6 linked regions of the Homo sapiens genome follow. The protein of the gene in region 1 purifies or fractionates together with the protein of each later gene. This does not show direct contact. Each region holds a gene or a part of one and is shown in the gene's direction. Other genes may lie near its edges.

Region 1 (3,063 bases):
ATTGGCGTTGTTGTCACTTTTTGGCTGTTGTGAACATTTGTGTACAGGTTTTTTTTTTTTTTTTGAGACAGGGTCTCGCTCTGTCGCCCAGACTGGAGTGCAATATGTGATATTGGCTCACCGCAGCCTTGACCCCCCAGGCTCTAGCGATCCTCCTACCTCAGCCTCCTGAGTAGCTGAAACTAAGGCATGTGCCACCAAGCCCAGATAATTATTATTATTATTATTTTGAGACAGGGTGTCTCATTCTGTCTCCCAAGCTGGAGTACGGTGGCTCAGTCTCCACTCACCGCAGCCTCAACCTCCTGAGCTCCAACAGTCCTCTCACCTCAGCCTCCTAAGTAGCTGGAACTAAGGCCTGTGCCACCACATCTGTCTAATTTTTGTTTTGTTACTAGAGACAGAGTTTTGCTGTGTTGCCCAGGCTGGTCTGGAACTCCTGGGCTCAAACGATCCACCTGCCTGGGCCTCCCAAAGTGTTAGGATGATAGGCGTGAGCCACCATGCCCAGCCTAATTTTTAAATTTCTTGTAGAGAGGAGGTCTCACTTTGTTGCCCAGACTGGTCTCAAACTCCTGGCCTCAAGAGCTCCCTCCGCCTCAGCCTTCCAAAGCGCTGGGATTACAGGCATGCACCACCATGCCCGGCCATTTGCTGTCACTTCTGTCTCCTTGAGTCTGCCTCCTCCTGCTTCACCTCCATGAAGCCAGGGGGCTTTTGCTTGCCTGGGTCACTATGACTGAATTCTTCCCACCTAGTCTGTGGTAGACATCTTCGTAAACTCAGACACCTCATGTCCTCTTTGTCTTCATCCTTCAGGACTATGGCCCCAAAGTCAACTTTCGGAAACAGAAGCTAAAGACCGAGGGCTTCTGCGGCCTCCCCAGCTTCAGCCGGGAGGTGGTGCGGAGGATGGGCCTCTACCCGGGGCTGGAGGGCTTCCGGCCCGTCGAGCAGTGCAACCTGGACTACTGCCCCGAGCGGGGCTCTGCCATTGACCCCCACCTGGACGACGCCTGGCTGTGGGGGGAGCGGCTGGTCAGCCTCAACCTCCTGTCCCCCACCGTGCTGTCCATGTGTCGGGAGGCGCCCGGGAGCCTGCTCCTCTGCTCGGCCCCGTCGGCTGCCCCGGAGGCCTTGGTGGACAGCGTGATAGCACCCAGCCGGTCGGTGCTATGCCAGGAGGTGGAGGTGGCCATCCCCTTACCCGCCCGCTCCCTGCTGGTCCTCACCGGGGCGGCACGGCACCAGTGGAAGCATGCCATCCACCGCAGACACATCGAGGCCCGCCGCGTCTGCGTCACTTTCCGGGAGCTGTCGGCTGAGTTTGGCCCTGGAGGGAGGCAGCAAGAGCTGGGCCAGGAACTGCTGCGGATCGCCCTCTCCTTCCAGGGAAGACCCGTGTGAACCGCCTCCTTGGCTCCAGACTTGACTGATCCCGGGATTGAAATGAGGAGCACAGAACAGGGCCTCCTGCAACTCACGGGGTTTCAAGAGAAGATGGCTGACCCCTGATGCTGTGAGCAGTGTGAGCCCTGCCCAGGAGCAGGTTTTGATGGGAACGTACCTCCAGGCAGCCCCCTTCCACCTGGACCGTGGCCACACTTTTTTGGTTATTTAGTTTGTCACAGTCTTGGGGACATGGGATCATTTGAGCTTAAAAAATACTGGGGGCCGGGCACAGTGGCTCACACCTGTAATCCTAACACTTTGGGAGGCTGAGGTGGGCGGATCACTTGATGCCAGGAGTTCGAGACCAGCCTGGCCAACACGGTGAAAACCCGTCTCTACAAAAACTACAAAAATTAGCCGGGTGTGGTGACTCACAGCCGTAATCCCAGCTACTCGGGAGGCTAAGGTGGGAGAATTGCTTGAACCTGGGAGGCGGAGGTTGCAGTGAGCCAAGATCACGCCACTGCACTCCAGCCTCGGTGACAGAGCAAGACTGTTTTGAAAAAAAAAAAAAATGGGAACATTTTAAATGATTTTCACCTTTATTATGCATCTATTTTCATGGGGTTTCCCGATATCTCACTGTCCAGTCCCTTCATTTGGGGAATGTGTTGGATTAGGGAACAGGGTTGAAGATTTGAAGTTTAGACTAAAGAGCTGGGAACAGCTTCAGAGTCAGGCTCAGCCTGACTCATGCTTGACACCCCCACGCCCAGGGAGGGTTGGGGGATGTGAGGAGGGCAGGGAAATCTGAGAGCCTCCTTCCAGCCCCATAACGCTGTTAACAAGTAGGAAAAATTAAAGCTCCCGGCCAGGCGCGGTGACTCACACCTGTAATCCGAGTACTTTGCGGGGCTCAGGTGGGAGGATTGCTTGAGGCCAGCCTGGGCAACATAGTGAGACCCCCATCTCTACAAAAAATACAAACATTAGCTGGGCGTCTGGGCATGGTGGCACACACCTGTAGTCCCAGCTACTCGAAAGGCTGAGGCGGGAGGATGGCTTTACCACCATGTCAAGGCTGCAGTGAGCTCATGATCATACCACTGCACTTAACTTGGCAACAGAGCAAGACCCTGTCCCTAAAATAAATAAAAGGAAAACAAAAAAAGCTCCTCACCTCCCACTACACCAGGAGGCTATTCCTTTGTGATGGGGCTGTGGTGGGGGCGCTTACCTGGATGGGGGAGCTGCTCTGCTGTTCCTGTGGCTGGGTGCGGGGCAGGCTGTGGAGGCTGAGGGGGTGGCCTGGACCCATGTGGCCAGCCCTCTCTCCCACCACTATGGGACAAAATGTTCAGTTCCTCACCACCTGCTGGGAACTAAATCCAGGGGAACAGGAAAGGTTCGGGGCCAGCACCACTCTTTACAGTCACCCCCAGAACCCTCTGGGAGCTGTCAGATGGCAGAGCCGTGCACTGTCTGTAAAGCAGCATCCCAGCCACTGAGCTCCCAGGAGGGCTGAAGAGCCCCGCATAGACCCAGGGGAAAGGCTGATGGGTTTCTAGTGGCTGTGAGAGCCCAGCCGCTAGGTGGGAGGACGTGGCTCCCAGGCCACCTTAACTTCGGCTCCCTGGTCAACTCACTTGGAGCAAGAGCACAGAGCCCGGC
Region 2 (3,500 bases), on another chromosome or scaffold:
AGACCCTGTCTCAAAATAAATAGGGCGGGAGTGGTGGCTCACGCCTGTAATCCCAGCACTTGGGCAAGCCGAGGTGGGAGGATTGCCTGAGGTCAGAGTTTGAGACACAGCCTGGCCAATATGGCAAAACCATCTCTACTAAAAATACAAAAATTAGCCGGGTGTGATGGTGGCGTGCACCTGTAATCCCAGCTACTCAGGAGGCTGAGGCAGGAGAACTGCTTGAACCCTGGAGGCGGAGGTTGCAGTGAGCCGAGACTGTGCCGTTGCACTCCAGCCTGGGCAACAGAGTGAGACTCTGTCACAAAAAAATAAAAATAAACAAATAAATAAAAATAAGGCTATCACAGGGTTTTGGATGTAGCATTTAATAGGTGCTCTGTGGCCAGGCGTGGTGGCTCAGGCCTGCAATCCCAGCACTTTGGGGGGCCGAGGCGGGTGGATCACGAGGTCAGGAGATTGAGATCATCCTGGCTAACATGGTGAAACAGTGAAACCCCGTCTCTACTAAAAATGCAAAAAAATTAGCCGGACATGGTGGCGGGCGCCTGTAGTCCCAGCTACTCGGGAGGCTGAGGCAGGAGAATGGCGTGAACCCGGGAGGTGGAGCTTGCAGTGAGCCGAGATCGTGCCGCTGCACTCCAGCCTGGGCAACAGAGTGAAACTCCGTCTCAAAAATAATAATAATAATAATAATAATAATAATAATAATAAATAATTAAAAATTTTTTAAAAACAGAAATTAAAAATAGAAGCTCTGTAACTGCCAGTGCACTCTGTGAAGGGGGCTACTCTGAGACCCCTCTATCCACAGGTCCATCTTGAGTGGCCTCTTCCCACCCAGTGGTGGCTCTGCCTTCATCCTGGGCCACGACGTCCGCTCCAGCATGGCCGCCATCCGGCCCCACCTGGGCGTCTGTCCTCAGTACAACGTGCTGTTTGACATGTGCGTCTCGGCAGGCCCAGAGTGCAGCGGTGGGAAGGGACTGGACGCCCTCTGGGACTCTGCCTGCCATGTGGGTCACTCTGCTCTGTGCACTGGCCGCAGGCTGACCGTGGACGAGCACGTCTGGTTCTATGGGCGGCTGAAGGGTCTGAGTGCCGCTGTAGTGGGCCCCGAGCAGGACCGTCTGCTGCAGGATGTGGGGCTGGTCTCCAAGCAGAGTGTGCAGACTCGCCACCTCTCTGGTGAGCCCATCCCCAAGGGAGGTCACCTCACAGGGAGGGGCCTGGGGATTCATCCTGAAGGCAGGGGGAAGCCGGGTACTGAGGTCCACGTGGGTAGGCAACCTTGCCCAAGGCTGGGTGTGACACACTGAGGTCCCTTCCCCATCTCTACCAGGTGGGATGCAACGGAAGCTGTCCGTGGCCATTGCCTTTGTGGGCGGCTCCCAAGTTGTTATCCTGGACGAGCCTACGGCTGGCGTGGATCCTGCTTCCCGCCGCGGTATTTGGGAGCTGCTGCTCAAATACCGAGAAGGTAAGAGCTGGGGATTCTGCTCGAGGGGCCAGAAAAGGCTTCTGACAAGGAAGTGCTGGGGATGGGGTTTTGAGGAATGAGTAGGAGTTTGCTACATGTGGACCCCACTTGTTGCTATGGCATTTAGGGGCTACTGCTCAAATACCGAGACAGTAAGAGTTGGGGATAGACAGAGGTTCCCCTGGATTCTGCCTGAAGGGCCAGAAAAGGTTTCCAACAAGGAGGTTCTGGGGATGAGGTTTTGAGGGATGAATAGGAGTTTGCTTCATGGGGCAGACAACTCCTGGCAGAGGCCCCAGCTCGGGCAAAGACGCGGCGGCCTGATGGTAGTTGTGGGTTGGTCCCCCGTGCCTAGGTCGCACGCTGATCCTCTCCACCCACCACCTGGATGAGGCAGAGCTGCTGGGAGACCGTGTGGCCGTGGTGGCAGGTGGCCGCTTGTGCTGCTGTGGCTCCCCACTCTTCCTGCGCCGTCACCTGGGCTCCGGCTACTACCTGACGCTGGTGAAGGCCCGCCTGCCCCTGACCACCAATGAGAAGGTGGGGACCGGCCTTCTCCTGACCCCTGACCCCCGGGACTCTGTTCAGCCCTGAAGGCCAAGCCACTTGGTGCCTCTCTGCCCGCAGGCTGACACTGACATGGAGGGCAGTGTGGACACCAGGCAGGAAAAGAAGAATGGCAGCCAGGGCAGCAGAGTCGGTGAGGGCCGGGGTGGGAGACCCAAGGCGGGTGGGCAGTGGGGTGGCTGTGCCTTAACTTGAGGAGGAGGAGGGGGAGGGGGAAGAGGAGGAGGAGGGGGAGGAAGCGGCAGAGGAGGTTGAGGCGGAGGAGGAGGGGGAGGAGGAGGGGGAGGAGTAAGAGGTGGAAGGGGAGGCGAAGGGGAGGAGTAGGAGGGAGAGGAGGAGGGGGAGGGAGAGGAGGAGGGGGAGGAGAAGGGGGGAGGAGGAGGGGAAGGGAGAGGAGGAGGGGGAGAAGAAGGGGAGGAGTAGGAGGGGAGCAGAAGGGGAGGAATAGGAGGGGGAGGAGGAGGGGGAGGGAAAGGGGGAGGAGAAGGGGGAGAAGTAGGAGGAAGAGGAGGGGGAGGAGAAGGGGGAGGAGTAGGAGGGAGAGGAGGAGGAGGGAGAGGAGGGGGAGGAGAAGGAGAGGAGGAGGAGAGCACTTGAGAACCTGAGATGATGCCCCCATCCCTGGGCTGAGCCGGAACCATGAGACTAACTTGAACACTGACCCCACCTTTAACCCAACCAGGGCTGAGCCCAGAGACAAACCTACCCCTGACCTCCAACACTAGGTCCAGCACTGCCCTCAAGATCTCTTTTTGTTTGTTTCTGAGTCTTGCTCTGTCGCCCAGGCTGTAGTGCAGTGGTGTGATCTCAGCTCACTGCAACCTCTGCCTCCTGGGTTCAAGCATTTCTCCTCCCTCAGCCTCTCGAGTAACTGGGATTACAGGTGGGTTCCACCATGCCTGGCTAATTTTTGCATTTTTGGTAGAAATGGGGTTTCACCATGTTGGTCAGGCTGGTCTCAAACTCCTGACCTCAGGTGATCTGCCTGCTTCAACCCTCAAAGTGCTGGGATTACAGGCGTGAGCCACTGCGCCCGGCCGCACCTGGCCTACGTTCTTAACCCTGATCTCTGTCTGCCGGGACAGTCCCCTCACAGGTCACCAATGCCTCTTCCCCAGGGAGACTGGGGTGGGGCGTGAGCCGGGGCTCCCTGAAGCACCCCTTTGTCCACACAGGCACTCCTCAGCTGCTGGCCCTGGTACAGCACTGGGTGCCCGGGGCACGGCTGGTGGAGGAGCTGCCACACGAGCTGGTGCTGGTGCTGCCCTACACGGGTGCCCATGACGGCAGCTTCGCCACACTCTTCCGAGAGCTAGACACGCGGCTGGCGGAGCTGAGGCTCACTGGCTACGGGATCTCCGACACCAGCCTCGAGGAGGTGTGAGGCCTGGGTGGTGGTGAGGTGGGGCCAGGAGGAGGGCTTCCTGGAGGAGGTGGTGTTTTGAAGGATGAA
Region 3 (3,500 bases), on another chromosome or scaffold:
CCCAGAGCCTTTGGTAGGGGGCACTTCATAGATTGATTCATTTATTTTCTTCCTCTCTGTGACCTAAAATTCTCTAAACCTTGGTAAGCATACTATGTTACTTCTAAGAGATGGCATATTTGTAGTGTTATTTTGTGGGTAGAGAAAGGAAAATGAAAATTGCAATGGGCAAGATTCCCACAATGAACATTCCCTGGAGTTAGTTATGATTTTGGGATACAGGATTGTTTCATGCTGAAACATGCTGCCTGGTATGTTGCTGCTCACGAGTCTCCAGGCCCTCTTAGGATGTCTGTTAAATTCTGTGCTAGCAGGGGGCCAAAACAGGCAACTTCATCTGAACTGGAAAGGTCTTGTTGCCATATGGAGGACTGCATTTCCGTGTATTTTTACAGGGGTGGGGGAATAAAGCACCAGAGGTTAAGACAGTAAGGGGCAGAGGTACATCTCTTGCCTGATAACATCTGCAAAACATTGAGCTCGTCAAACATATCTGGTGATTCCAGTTCTCCCTACAGGGATTCAGAGAACTGTGAGCCACATTGCCTGCCCTCAGGCTGGCACAGGGACATAAACATTATAGAACTAAGAACAATAAAAATTTGAACAATTTAAAGTAATTATATTATAGACGGTACATTTATTAAACCTGAAGTACACAACATAGATGTTATTTGCTATAGGGTTCGGGAGCTGGACATAATCCCTTTTAGGCTAAAGTGGACAGGGAAGGCATCATAGAGAATGTGGAACTTTAACTGAGGATTCAGAGTTAAAGAGAACAGAGTAGATGGTGATAGGAGCCTGTCCGATTAGGACAGCAGCATGAAAAAAGTTGAGAAAAGTGAAAAGATGGTTGAAACCTGAGTCTAGCAGTCTAGTTTCTCCATTCACTGATTCCGTAATATCTCTTTAGCCCAAGGATCAGCAGACTTTCTCTTGAAGGACCAGAGAATAAGTATTTTAGGCTTTGTGGTTATATGGTCTCTGTCACAGCTTCTTATCTACTGCTATAGTGCAAAACCAGCCATATGTAAATGAATGAGTGTGGCAGTGTTCCAATAAAACTATATTTATGGATGGTGAAATTTGAATTTCATATAGCTTTTTACATGTCATGAAATATTATTCCTCTTTTGGTTGTTTTTCAGCCATTTAAAAATATAAAAACCATGCTTAGCTTATGGGTTCTACAGAAATAGTTCGCTGGACCAAATTTAGCCTGTAGCTGTAAATTTGCCGACCCCTGATTTAGCCCACTAACATGATAAACTAGGAATACGTTATGCAAATAAATTATAAGCGTATGGAGTTTCATTCTAAGAATATCCACTAGAAGATCCAAAATTGAAAGCTATGGGAGGTGAGTACAGGTTCAAGTAGTTGGAAAATAATGGCTCATTATTTAAGCTTGTAAATTGATATTTAAAAAAACCAAGAGTCAACATGGTACTTTAGCCCATGCCATTGCATTTTTTAATAACCTTAGAAAGAAGGCCAGGTGCAGTGGCTCACGCTTGTAATCCCAGCAGTTTGGGAGGCCAAGGCGGGCAGATCACGAGGTCAGGAGATCAAGACCACAGTGAAACCCCATCTCTACTAAAAATACAAAAAATTAGTTGGGTGTGGTGGCGGGCGCCTGTAGTCCCAGCTACTCAGGAGGCTGAGGCAGGAGAATGGTGTGAACACGGGAGGCTGAGCTTGCAGTGAGCTGAGATGGCGCCACTGCACTCCAGCCTGGGCGACAGAGTGAGACTCCGTCTCAAAATAAAGAAAGGAAGAAATAATAATAATAATAACCTTAGAAAGAAAGACAATTTAGTGATTGGATGTTCTTGCAAATGAATAGCATTTTCAAGGATTTATTTAATCAGGCTCCTCCTAAGAGTAGCATGTTCTGACAACAGCTATAGATTTATCAGAAAGCAATCTTTGGATATTGGTGGTAGTTGAGTTGCATGTTGATCATTAAATGCTGTACTCCTTTTGCAGGCATGGTCTACATGGCTGGACTTGTTTTTGCTGTTGGTGGCTTTAATGGCTCATTAAGAGTTCGCACTGTAGATTCCTACGACCCTGTGAAGGACCAGTGGACCAGCGTTGCTAACATGAGAGACCGGAGAAGCACTTTGGGAGCTGCTGTGTTAAATGGATTATTATACGCTGTGGGAGGCTTTGATGGGAGTACAGGTAATTTCCTTTTCATTTATTCTACATTGCTGCTAAAATTAACGTAGTAGTCATGTTTATGGAATAAATTGTGGCAACATTAGGGCACATGTGAGGTTTTTTGTGTTTTTTTTTTTTTTTTTGAGATGGAGTCTTGCTCCGTCGCCCAGGCTGGAGTACAGTGGCGCAATCTCGGCTCACTGCAAGCTCCGCCTGCCGGGTTCATGCCATTCTCCTGCCTCAGCCTCCCGAGCAGCTGGGACTATAGGTGCCCGCCACCACGCCCGGCTAATTTTTTTTGTATTTTTTAGTAGAGACGGGGTTTCACCATGTTAGCCAGGATGGTCTCAATCTCCTGACTTTGTGATCCGCCCACCTCGGCCTCCCAAAGTGCTGGGATTACAACATGTGAGGTTTTAACTGGTATTTAAAGATAAGTTTAAAATTTTATCAAGAATTTCCTTAAATGATATGAGTGGTGAGTATATAAATTTTCTTTCTTATGCATCAGTATCAGTCATCAAATTTTAAAAGCTTATAAATATCAGTAGCTTAGGTAGGAGCCTTCTGGAAAACAAGCTGTACCTGTTTTTCATGTAATTGCTGTGTTTATGTTCCACCATTTTCTTCTCTTAATTTTAGCCCAGTATAACATACCTGAAGTATTTTTCCATATATATGAACTATTGACATTTTTTAGAGAAGGAAATGAAGACTATTGTGCTTTATTATAGGTTTGTCATCTGTGGAAGCATACAACATAAAGTCTAATGAGTGGTTTCATGTAGCTCCCATGAATACAAGGAGGAGCAGTGTTGGTGTGGGTGTTGTTGGAGGTAGGTGTTGACAGTTCTTTCAGGTACATGTGGCATTTTGATCCTTGAGAGTGGTTCTTCCAGTAATCTCAACTTTAGTTTTCTGAATGGGCAAGCTAATTATCATTTTAAAAAGAAAAGTCGTAATTACTGTAAAATTTCAGTTATCCTCTTTTTAAAATTAGCTTCTCTATATAAATCAACCTATATAAAGCCTTTTCTCTCCCTCTCTATCCCCCTCCCTTTATCCCTCCTCCTTTCTCTCTGTGTGTGTGTGTGTGTGTGTGTGTGTGTGTGTGTGTTTGACTTATATAACTGTGTGTGTTTGACTTATATAACACGTGTGTGTTTGACTTATATAACAGCAGTCCCCAACCTTTTTGGCACTAGGGACTGGTTTTGTGGAAGACAATTTTTCCATGGACAGGGGTGGGTTGGGGGGATGGTTTTGGGATGAAACTGTTCCCACCTCAGATCATCAGGCATTAGAGTGTCATAAGGAGTGCACAACCTAGG
Region 4 (3,500 bases), on another chromosome or scaffold:
GGTGTGGTGATACACACCTGTGGTTTCAGCTACTTGGGAGGCTGAGGTGAGAGGATTACTTGAACCTCGGAGGTTGAGGCTGTAGTGAGCTGTGATCATGCCACTGCACTCCAGCCTGAGCAACAGAATGAGACCCATCTCCAAAAAAAGAAAAAGAGAGAGAGAGAAACGTGGATGTTAAGCTGCTGGAGAGCTTTGTTAGGTTGAAAGTTCCCTATATAAACCATGGATTTTTTGCATATAAGCCATTTAATAAATATCTTACTGATTGGTTCACCTGTCATATAAAGATACTAATTTGCCCTACCTTTCTCTTATTTGTGAAAAGAAAATGTACATAAAAGCTCTGTGAACTTTAAAGTTCATTTTGTGTCAAGTACTTTTCTAGGTATTGTACGGACTAAAAGAAAGGCCTGACCAGCACTCTCATAGTCTAGTAATTCTTTCCTAATATTTTAGTTTCACAGCTCTAATACTTTATAATAATCAAATATTTCATTACCCATAAGTGTGAATATTTAAGCTAAATTGTACCATTCTCAGTGTGAGCAGTATTACCCCCAAGGGGGCAAAGATTGTTTCTTAGAAGATGAAAAAAAATGTACCCTTTCTTGTGTAAAGAACAGATATACATACATTAAGGTAAATAGATACACAATTTCTCTGTGGTATTACAATTTTATTGAGGGAAGACTATTAGGAAGAAAATACCTAAAAAGGCTCCGTGGATTGTGATGGTGGTAGGGGATGATGATTTTTTAAAAGGTTCAGAAACTCTGAGCTAAATATATTGCAATTATATTTATTTAGCAAGGGCATTTTAAAGAGAAGAGATCCCTTAATTCTTTAGCCAACTACTTCAAAATTCAGACTTTTGATAATTAAGATTTTTCCATGTATTTTACATATAGGTATATGTTGTCGGTGGCTATGATGGGCAAAACAGACTTAGCAGCGTAGAATGTTATGATTCCTTTTCAAATCGATGGACTGAAGTTGCTCCCCTTAAGGAAGCCGTGAGTTCTCCTGCAGTGACTAGCTGTGTAGGCAAACTGTTTGTGATTGGTGGAGGACCTGATGATAATACTTGTTCTGATAAGGTAAGCCATGCACTTTTAAAGAAATTACCAATATTAAGTACAAGAAGGGAAATACAGAAGGCTTATCAAGTAGGTAGCCAGGTCACATAGTGTGAGGGGTCTTTTAAAAATTTTCTGGTACTATATGCTTTTGGAGAAAAACATTGAATTCTGGGTTGCTAAAGTGAGACTCTAGTATATCTAACAATTTGCTCTAACAAATGTGATCCAATCTTTTTGAAATGAGACTATCTGTGTAGAAGTTTTCTACTAAATAAATTGTTCTGAGCCTTTGCTGTCATCTACAAAATCTAAAAACTATTTATACAAAACACAGTTGAGAAGTGAATTAGCAAAGGGTAAGACATAGTAACTAAATATGCTGCTTCCAACTGGGTCATTTTCTACATACTTTTGAAGTATTTTTCAGAAAAAAGGAAAGGAAACCTCCTTAGTGTAAATAGAGGATGGCTCAAAGTTGTTCCGGTTCAGTAAACTTCTGGGACGAAAGAATATGTGCTATCCTGACATCTCAGGAAATGTTTATTCTGGAAAAAAGCATCTAATGCCTAGCTGGTTTAGCACTGTTAACTGAATTTTGTCAGTCTATTAATTCTTTTTCTAAATTCAGTTTAAAATAATGTGATCAAATGTTACTTATTTAGAATTTGTTATTTCAGAATTTGTGATAATTCAGAGCATACTGATTGAATTGAGGTTTACTTGTTTTCTTTTGAAGAAAGGACTCCCTAAAAGCATTAAGAAGTTATATTCAGATGTGAGGCATAGTTATCCTACATAACACAATTGTGAAAAGATTTAGACTGTTAATTTTAGTGGACAAACCTGGTGGCCATTCATTCTAGAAACAATCTGTGTGTTTGGTACTCTATTCTGCTTGATAGTAATAAATTTGCATTTTATTTGAGAATGTTCGTAATTCAGACATTTCACTATCAGGCTAACCTCTCTTAATTCTCTGAATTAATAGGATTTTATTTTAAATAATGTTTGTAGGTATTGGTAGATTCTTTATTAAGTACATTTCCATTTTTGTTTAGAAATTTTAATTATATATTTTTATATGTTATTAGGTTCAATCTTATGATCCAGAAACCAATTCTTGGCTACTTCGTGCAGCTATCCCAATTGCCAAAAGGTGTATAACAGCTGTATCCCTAAACAACCTGATCTATGTTGCCGGTGGACTGACCAAGGCAATATACTGTTACGATCCAGTTGAAGATTACTGGATGCACGTACAGAATACATTCAGCCGTCAGGTAATAACATAAAGCAGTACAAAAGAAAAATAAATCTAAGAGGGACCAAGTACATAATCATTATTAATACACTGGAATTTCAATTTTAAAATATTTCAGGCTGGGCGTGGTGGCTCACGCCTGTAATCCCAGCACTTTGGGAGGCCGAGGTGGATAGATCACTTGAGGTCAGGAGTTCAAGACCAGCCTGGCTAATATGGTGAAACCCCGTCTCTACTAAAAAATTATGGCCAGGCGTGGTGGTTCATGCCTGTAATCCCAGCACTTTGGGAGGCTGAGGCAGGCCAATCACCTGAGGTCGGGAGTTCGAGACCAGCCTGACCAACATGGAGAAACCCCGTCTCTGCTAAAAATACAAAATTAGCTGGGCGTGGTGGCGCATTGCCTGTAATCCCAGCTACTAGGGAGGCTGCGGCAGGAGAATTGCTTGAACCCGGGAGGTGGAGGTCGCGGTGAGCCGAGATCGAGCCATTGCACTCCAGCCTGGACAGCAAGAGCGAAACTCCGTCTCAAAAATAAATAAATAAATAAAAATAAAATAAAATAAAATAAAACAAAATAAAATAAAAAATTAGCTGGGTTTGGTGGCACACGCCTGTAATCCCAGCTGCTCAGGAGGTTGAGGCGGGAGAATCACTTGAATCTGGGAGGCAGAGGTTGCAGTGAGCCGAGATCATGCCACTTGCACTCCAGCCTGGGCAACAGAGTGAGACTCCGTCTCAAAAAAGTAAATAAATAAGTAAAATAAAATATTTCATGTTTGCTTGAATTATTTTATATATTTTTCAAAACTCCACATAAAGCATATGGCAACCTGTTTTGAACTCCTTCCAAGGGGTCATTTTATTGAAATAACTTCCTTTTTACCATCCCATGGAGAAGTATCTGTTACACTTGGGCTGTTCTTTTTTTTTTCTCTTGACTTTTTTCACAATCCTACTCCAGTATTTATCCCCTCTCTTTCATATTTCAGAAGAGAGGAATGTTCCCAAACTTGTTGTTTCTTTGGTTAGAGGCTGGGAAATCTGTTATTTCTGTTGTAAAGGAAATGGCTGTGCTCACCTTTCTTTCATCCATGTATTCTAACCGGAGCCCTACTCCCTACCCACACTGCCACCTCCCAAAAGGCCTTTTCCCC
Region 5 (3,500 bases), on another chromosome or scaffold:
TAATATACATAAATGGCTGGGAGCAGTGTTTGATGCTTGTAATCCCAGCACTTTGGGAGGCTGAGGCAGGCAGATCATGAGGTGAGGAGTTCGAGACCAGCCTGGCCAACATGGCAAAACCCCGTCTCTACTAAAAAATACAAAAATTAGCTGGGTATGGTGGCACGCGCCTGTAATCCCAGCTACTGGGGAGGCTTGAGGCAGGAGAATTGCTTGAACCCGGGAGGCAGAGGTTGTATTGAGCCGAGATCCTGCCACTGTACTCCAGCCTGGGCAACAGAGCGAGACTCCATCTCAAAAAAAAAAAATAAAGATAATATACATAAGCTTTGGTTTAGTCTTAGTCTGAATTAATGAAGGTACTAATGAGCATCAGTAGTTAATATGTTAAATGTTACATTAGCTGTATTGATGGTAAGTATAAAAAAACACATTCTACCAAAAAAAAAAGTAATACACTCAGCAAGAAGTTTCAAGAGCTTTGGTTTTATTTTTAGAAGAGGCAGAGATAAGCTTTCTTACTTTTTATATTCCACAGATATGAAACATTTTTTGCAAAAGTTGATCTCACAGTTGATGGACTGCTGTGTAGATATAAAATCCAAAGAGGAGGAAAGTGTTCACGTCACCCAAAGAAAGACACATTATTCAATGGATTCACTTTCCAGTTGGTATATGACTGTCACACAGGTAGATATAAACTGATGATTTTCTCCCAGGAAATTGACGTATGATTGATGTGGCTTGGAATAATATTAGACAGTACTGTTTTGATCTAACAAGGATATGTTTCTGCAGCACTAGGTGTTAATTTAAAAGTAGGTATTTATTTTTTCTAATGCTACTCGAATTTTAAAATGTTCTTTTATTAGTATGCAGCCTAATTCCAGGTAAGTGCTTAGGTTTTTACAAGGACATATTATTTGTTGGAGAATGTCCTCTAATGACAAAAACAGAGCATCAGGAATTGCTTCTGTTGCATGTTCCATCTCTGTGACAGTAACTATAACTTTAGTATATTATCTCTTATGTTCCTCAATGTTTGCTTTGTCCAATAGAACCATGCTGCTAGTATCCACTGTCAACTTAGTTCAATGAAGAATAATCATGTATTTTCTAAAGTCTAATTTGTTTTATGTTTAGAGTTCTTAGGGAATCAGTGTTCTTTAAGTAAAGTATGTTAGACAAACAGATAAGTAAAAAGAAGTTCCATTCTACCATGACAGTCTGGTGAAAAATAATAACCTAGGTTAACACTAGGTAATTGCGTCATAAAACCATAGTCTTAGGTTATGGTGCTGTGTAGCCAGACAGTATGGGAAAAAAAATACTGTGGTTACATTTTCCAATCAACATTTTTGCTGAAATCATCGTAAGTGAAGTTTCATTTTGCTTTATATAGGGACTAAACTACGTCTAATACTTACCATAATACCTGATTTGCTCCACAATTTTAGACTTTCCAGATAAAATGCTACTTTTGGTTTATGTCAGATATCTTTTTAAAAATTGAGATTGGACCAGATGATACCTAGTATCCATTTCAGGCTTGAAATTTCACAGTGGCAGAGTAGCAAGCACTACTATTCATTATATTTTTTTCATTAAAAATACTAGTTCTCACTATAAAGCAAAGCAGAATATAACTTTCTACCAACAGAAAAATCAATTTTGTAGAAAATTTCCTCTTCCATGTTTTTTTCTGTCATTTCCTTAGCAGAAAATATAAATATTTCATATGAGTTATAGATTTTTACTGAACCTTTTTCTTCTTGGTTATTATTCCCATGTCAGACACAGCAAGATTCTAGTAACCTGAGTTTCTATTTATCGTGTGGTAGAAAAAAAATAAACAGTGTTATTGTGAAATTTAAAGAGAGATATGTCAACATGTGGCATTATAACATTGTTTGAGTGGTAAGGCTTACCTTTAACTCTTTCTTTCTGCAATGGCTTAAAAGAAGACGGACCCAAAAATGCTAAGCAAAAAAAGGACTACTTCTAGCCAATGGCAGTCTCCTCCTGTTGTCGTTATCTTGAAGGATATGGAAAGCTTTGCCACAAAAGTACTACAAGACTTCATAATTATCAGCAGGTAGATGGTGTATTACCTGGCTTTTATGAAAAACTCCCTTTTTAAGAAAATACTACTTTTAACTTGAAAAGTATAATCTTCATTTTAATACCAACTGGATAAAAATCAAAGTATTCAAATTCTTTATAATTGAATATTCAAAGACTTCCTATCAGATTTTCCATTTGCTTTTTGAGCCAAGAATGAGAATCAAAGGCACATTTAGCCAGTTTTAAATTGACATGGTAAGATAGTATTAAATATGGTTTTTCTCACCAAGATTGACTGTCTCTTACTCACCCATTAAATAGATAAACTACTCCAGGTTGAGTTTGTTGTTTTTGTTTTTTTCTTTTTTTTTTTTGAGATGGAGCTTTGTTCTGTTGCCCAGGCTGGAGTGCAGTGGTACGATCTCGGCTCACTGCAGCCTCCGCCTCCTGGGTTCAAGCAATTCTGCCTCAGCCTCCTGAGTAGCTGGGATTACAGGTGCCCACCACCACACCTGGCTAATTTTTGTATTTTTAGTAGAAACAGAGTTTCACCATGTTGGCCAGGCTGTTCTCGAACTCCTGACCTCAGGTGATCTGCCTGCCTCGGCCTCCCAAAGTGCTGGGATTACAGGAGTGAGCCACCATACCTGGCTAAGTTGAGATTTTTATTAGGTCTTATTTTCTGATACCCATCCATCCTTAGATGCTCTGAGTTGCATATAGTTTTACTAAGCAAAAGTGTCTTCTAAATAACATTATTTTGCATTTATATAATACTTCTAGTGAGAAACTATTTTCACGATTGCATTGCGTCTTCAAAGCAATCATGTGAGACTCAGAATTGAAATAATGAACTCTTATTTTAAAATCCAGTGACATGCATTTTCCCTGGTGTATTTTTTAGGATGGAATTTATTTTGGCCTCTTCTATATGTCAACTTGTTTTAATAGTTATAGCTACATTTGCCTAAAGCTATATATTGTGTTAAATAATTTACTAGTATACTTTATTTTTATTTTTATTTTTGGAGACAGAGTCTCGCTCTGTCCCCCAGGCTGGAGTGCAGTGGCGCCTTCTCAACTCCCTGCCACCTCCGCCTCCCGGGTTCAAGCAGTTCTCATGCCTCAGCCTCCCAAGTAGCTGGGATTACAGGTGCCCGCTGCCACGCCTAGCTAATTTTTGTATTTTTAGTAGAGACAGGGTTTCACCATATTAGCCAGGCTGGTCTCAAACTCCTGACCTCAGGTGATCTGCCTTCCTTAGTGCTCTTTGGGGCCTCCCAAAGTGCTAGGATTACAGACATGAGCCACCACACCCAGCTAATTTACTAATATACTTTATTTTTTTTTATTTTTTATTTTTTTTGAGACGGAGTCTCGCTCTGTCGCCCAGGTCGGACTGCGGACTGCAGTGGCGCAATCTCGGCTCACTGCAA
Region 6 (3,500 bases), on another chromosome or scaffold:
TTTCCAGGATACATGTGTACAATGTGCAGGCTTGTTACATAGGTATACATGTGCCATGGTGGTTTGCTGCACCTTTCAACCCATCATCTAGGTTTTAAGCCCCACATGCATTAGCTGTCTGTCCTTATGCTCTCCCTCCCTCCACCCACCCGCAGGCTGTGGCATATGTTGTTCCCCTCCCTGTGTCCATGTGTTCTCATTTTTCAACTCCCACCTATGAGTGAGAATATGCAGTGTGTGGTTTTCTGTTCCTGTGTTAGTTTGCTGAGGATGATGACTTCTAGCTTCATACATGTCCCTGCAAAGGACATGATCTCATTCCTTTTATGGCTGCATAGTACTCCTAAAGTTATTTTCAAGATTATTTATTTATTTATTTATTTATTTTAGAGACAGGGTCTTGCTCAGTCACCCAGATTGGGATGCCATGGCACAATCATAGCTCATTGTAGCCTCCAACTTCTGGGTTCAGGAGATCCTCCCAACTTAGCCACCTGAGTAGCTAGTACTATTTTTAAGGTATTTATTTATGGCCAGACATGGTGGCTCACGCCTGTGATCCCAGTACATTGGGAGACTGAGGCAGGAGGACTGCTTGAGCCCAGGAGTTTGTAACCATCCTAGGCAACATAGTAAGATCCCGTTTCTACAAAAAAAAAAAGTTTTTAATTAGCTGGAAGCTGGGTGTGTGATGGCTCATGCCTGTAATCTCAGCATATTGGGAGACCAAAGCAGATTGATCGCTTGAGTCCAGGAGTTTGAGACTAGCCTGGCATGGTGGCACACACCTGTGGTCCCAGCTATGAGTGAGGCTGAGGTGGGAGGATCACTTGAGCCTGGGAGGTTGAGGCAGCAGTGAGCCGTGATCATACCACTACACTCCAGCCTGGGCAACAGAGTGAGACCCTGTCTCAAAAAAAAAATAAAACTAGCTGAGCATGGTGGCGTGTGCCTGTAGTCCTAGTTACTTGGGAGGCTAACGCAGAGGATTGCTTGAGCCCAGGAGGTTGAGGCTACAGTGAGCTGTGATTGCATCACTATACTCAGCCTGGGTGACAAAGCGAGACCCTAGGTCAAAACAGAACAAAAAAAAGATATTTATATTTTTAACTTATTTAAAATACCTTTCTAAAGCAAGTTACTTTATTCTTACCTTGATCTTTACAGAACTAGGAGGAGCATTTCAAGAAGTAGTGTTCTAACCCAGGGATGCTGGTATTATGTGTGTGGTTTTAATTTTTACATCTAAGCCAGATTCCTGCAAGATTATTCTTAACATAAAACATTTTTTTAGGTTCGAATTATATTTTAGTTAGGTTTTTCCTGGGTACAAGGAACACAGATCCCCACAACCTAGCTTAAAAAAATAATGACAAAGGAAAGAAATCAATATTGTTGGGTACTAGGAGAGTTGGAACTGGGACAGTGTTAAAAACTGAGGAACTGTGCTTTCATGAGTCTCCAGGTCTCCCTGTGTCATCTCTGTGCATCTGTTCTGATTTCTCTATGCCACATATTTTCTTCATGTACATGTGTTTTATTCTCACATACTTATAAATGTCCATCAAGTTCCCAGTGTTAAGTGATTTGGTTTTTCAGTTCTCCCATTCTAGATTCTCAAGAGTCAATTTAGCTCAATTCATTTTTAAAATCTGGACATAGAAATAGCATATAATTGGAATATCCACAGATGAATCACAGTTGAGTTATCTGTGCCTATTACTTATTATATTAATGAACATAATTACATAGTTCATTAACTATGGGGGTAGAGTCATATACTCCATGTATAGAGTTATACAAAAAATGACCACTGCTCCTCAATAGATTTAGTGGGCTGGGTAGGGTCTCCTATGTGTCCACAGCTAGACAGTTGACATTTTTTGAGCATATTCTAAATAAAACTTGGTGTTCTTGACTCCCTATTATGCCAGGCCTAAGAAGAGATTGATAACAGTATTCCACAAAGGAAACTTTTATCATAAAAATTGTCTCTTAAAAAAGTAGTATGTTTGTTGTAGAAATTCAGTGCTTCCAACCTTTCTCACATAACAGCACTCACAGCAAATGATATTTGGAGGCACAATGGAATAAATAGAAGAGGATGCTGCAGACCAAGGACAAATACCCCAGGGCCCTAACCCTACCCCTGCTACTGGCCTTGATTGGCATCCTCAAAGGCCTGAGAGAATCAGTACTCAGCACATATGAAACCCATACCATTTATTTATTTATTTATTTATTTATTTATTTATTCATTCATTCATTCATTCATTCCTCACACTGGGGAACTTTGCCTTATTTTTTGGCATCATGCCCTATGTTTTTCAACCTTTTTAAAATTATTGACCCCTAATTAGCCTTTTTAGACATTTTCTCCTAATCACTTTTTCCCACCCTAAAAATTTCAGTACTACATATATGCTGTATATCTGTTTATGTACTGTGACGCTTTGGAGGGCCACAGACTATTATATTAATAATGTCAAAGTCTTTTTTCCACACTCCCTCCTGTGCCAAGATCCAGTTTTACCCAATTGGGAGATGTATTGTACCTGTCAAGAATGCCTGCTTTAGAGAACGTGGAACCGTTAACATTTCAGTGTGTATCTTCTGTCTGTTCATACATGCATGGGCACACATAAGCTTGCACCATTACGTTTATAAATAGACTTTTTGCAATTAATAATGTATCATATATACATTACTCTGTCATTAGACATTCTTCTACAATAAGAGTTTTGACATGTATTGCCAAATATCCTCCTAAAGTTTATACAGATTACACTATTTAATCATAGTTACATTTTCCTAAAGACTTAGTTTTGGCCAGGTGCAGTGGCTCATGCCTGTAATCTCAGCACTTTGGGAGGCCAAGGCGGGTGGATCGCCTGAGGACGGGAATTCAAGACCAGCCTGGCCAACATGGCGAAACCGTGTCTCTACTAAAAATACAAAAAATTAGCTGGGCGTGGTGGTGGGTGCCTGTAATCTCAGCTACTCGGGAGGCTGAGGCAGGAAAATCGCTTGAACCCGGGAGATGGAGGTTGCAATGAGCCAAGGTCACACCATTGCACTTCAGCCTGGGCAACAAGAGTGAAAATCCATCTCAAAAAAAAAAAAAGAAAAAGAAAGAAAGAAATCCCAAATCCCATCTCTACAAAAAACATACAAAAATTAGCTGGGCGTGGTGGCATGCACCTGTAGTCCTAGCTGCTCAGAAGGCTGAAGTGGGAGGATCACTGGAGCCCAGGAGGTTGAGGCTGCAGTGAGCCACAATCACACCATTGCACACTAGCATGGGTGACAGAGCAAGAATTTATCTCATACACACACAAAAAAGCTTAGCATCTGAACCATTTTTAAAGTGTATGGGTTCAGTGGCATTAGGTACATTCACACCATTTGTAACCAATCTCCCAAACTTTTCTCATTGTACAAAACTGAAATTTATTCATCTGTAGATGGACACTTGGGTTGCTTCAACCTTTTGGGTATTG

Evidence for each region.
Region 2: the proteins of ALKBH4 (region 1) and ABCA7 purify together in Homo sapiens (affinity purification with mass spectrometry; one large-scale study listed by BioGRID and IntAct). This does not show direct contact.
Region 3: the proteins of ALKBH4 (region 1) and KLHL2 purify together in Homo sapiens (affinity purification with mass spectrometry; one large-scale study listed by BioGRID and IntAct). This does not show direct contact.
Region 4: the proteins of ALKBH4 (region 1) and KLHL24 purify together in Homo sapiens (affinity purification with mass spectrometry; one large-scale study listed by BioGRID and IntAct). This does not show direct contact.
Region 5: the proteins of ALKBH4 (region 1) and ORC3 purify together in Homo sapiens (affinity purification with mass spectrometry; one large-scale study listed by BioGRID and IntAct). This does not show direct contact.
Region 6: the proteins of ALKBH4 (region 1) and ORC2 purify together in Homo sapiens (affinity purification with mass spectrometry; one large-scale study listed by BioGRID and IntAct). This does not show direct contact.

What each region holds. Positions count from the first base shown.
Region 1 is NC_000007.14:102,455,738-102,458,800, reverse strand, and holds the end of ALKBH4 (alpha-ketoglutarate-dependent dioxygenase alkB homolog 4), read left to right. Parts: intron 1-819; coding exon 820-1,407; 3' UTR 1,408-2,563; downstream 2,564-3,063. UniProt on the Homo sapiens protein: Dioxygenase that mediates demethylation of actin monomethylated at 'Lys-84' (K84me1), thereby acting as a regulator of actomyosin-processes.
Region 2 is NC_000019.10:1,050,107-1,053,606, forward strand, and holds part of ABCA7 (phospholipid-transporting ATPase ABCA7), read left to right. Parts: intron 1-814; coding exon 815-946; intron 947-1,048; coding exon 1,049-1,188; intron 1,189-1,342; coding exon 1,343-1,480; intron 1,481-1,835; coding exon 1,836-2,020; intron 2,021-2,107; coding exon 2,108-2,180; intron 2,181-3,222; coding exon 3,223-3,425; intron 3,426-3,500. UniProt on the Homo sapiens protein: Catalyzes the translocation of specific phospholipids from the cytoplasmic to the extracellular/lumenal leaflet of membrane coupled to the hydrolysis of ATP. Transports preferentially phosphatidylserine over phosphatidylcholine.
Region 3 is NC_000004.12:165,308,561-165,312,060, forward strand, and holds part of KLHL2 (kelch-like protein 2), read left to right. Parts: intron 1-1,992; coding exon 1,993-2,190; intron 2,191-2,903; coding exon 2,904-3,005; intron 3,006-3,500. UniProt on the Homo sapiens protein: Substrate-specific adapter of a BCR (BTB-CUL3-RBX1) E3 ubiquitin ligase complex that mediates the ubiquitination of target proteins, such as NPTXR, WNK1, WNK3 and WNK4, leading most often to their proteasomal degradation.
Region 4 is NC_000003.12:183,670,123-183,673,622, forward strand, and holds part of KLHL24 (kelch-like protein 24), read left to right. Parts: intron 1-911; coding exon 912-1,100; intron 1,101-2,173; coding exon 2,174-2,362; intron 2,363-3,500. UniProt on the Homo sapiens protein: Necessary to maintain the balance between intermediate filament stability and degradation, a process that is essential for skin integrity.
Region 5 is NC_000006.12:87,607,135-87,610,634, forward strand, and holds part of ORC3 (origin recognition complex subunit 3), read left to right. Parts: intron 1-538; coding exon 539-690; intron 691-1,961; coding exon 1,962-2,095; intron 2,096-3,500. UniProt on the Homo sapiens protein: Component of the origin recognition complex (ORC) that binds origins of replication. DNA-binding is ATP-dependent. The specific DNA sequences that define origins of replication have not been identified yet.
Region 6 is NC_000002.12:200,953,661-200,957,160, reverse strand, and holds part of ORC2 (origin recognition complex subunit 2), read left to right. Parts: intron 1-3,500. UniProt on the Homo sapiens protein: Component of the origin recognition complex (ORC) that binds origins of replication. DNA-binding is ATP-dependent. The specific DNA sequences that define origins of replication have not been identified yet.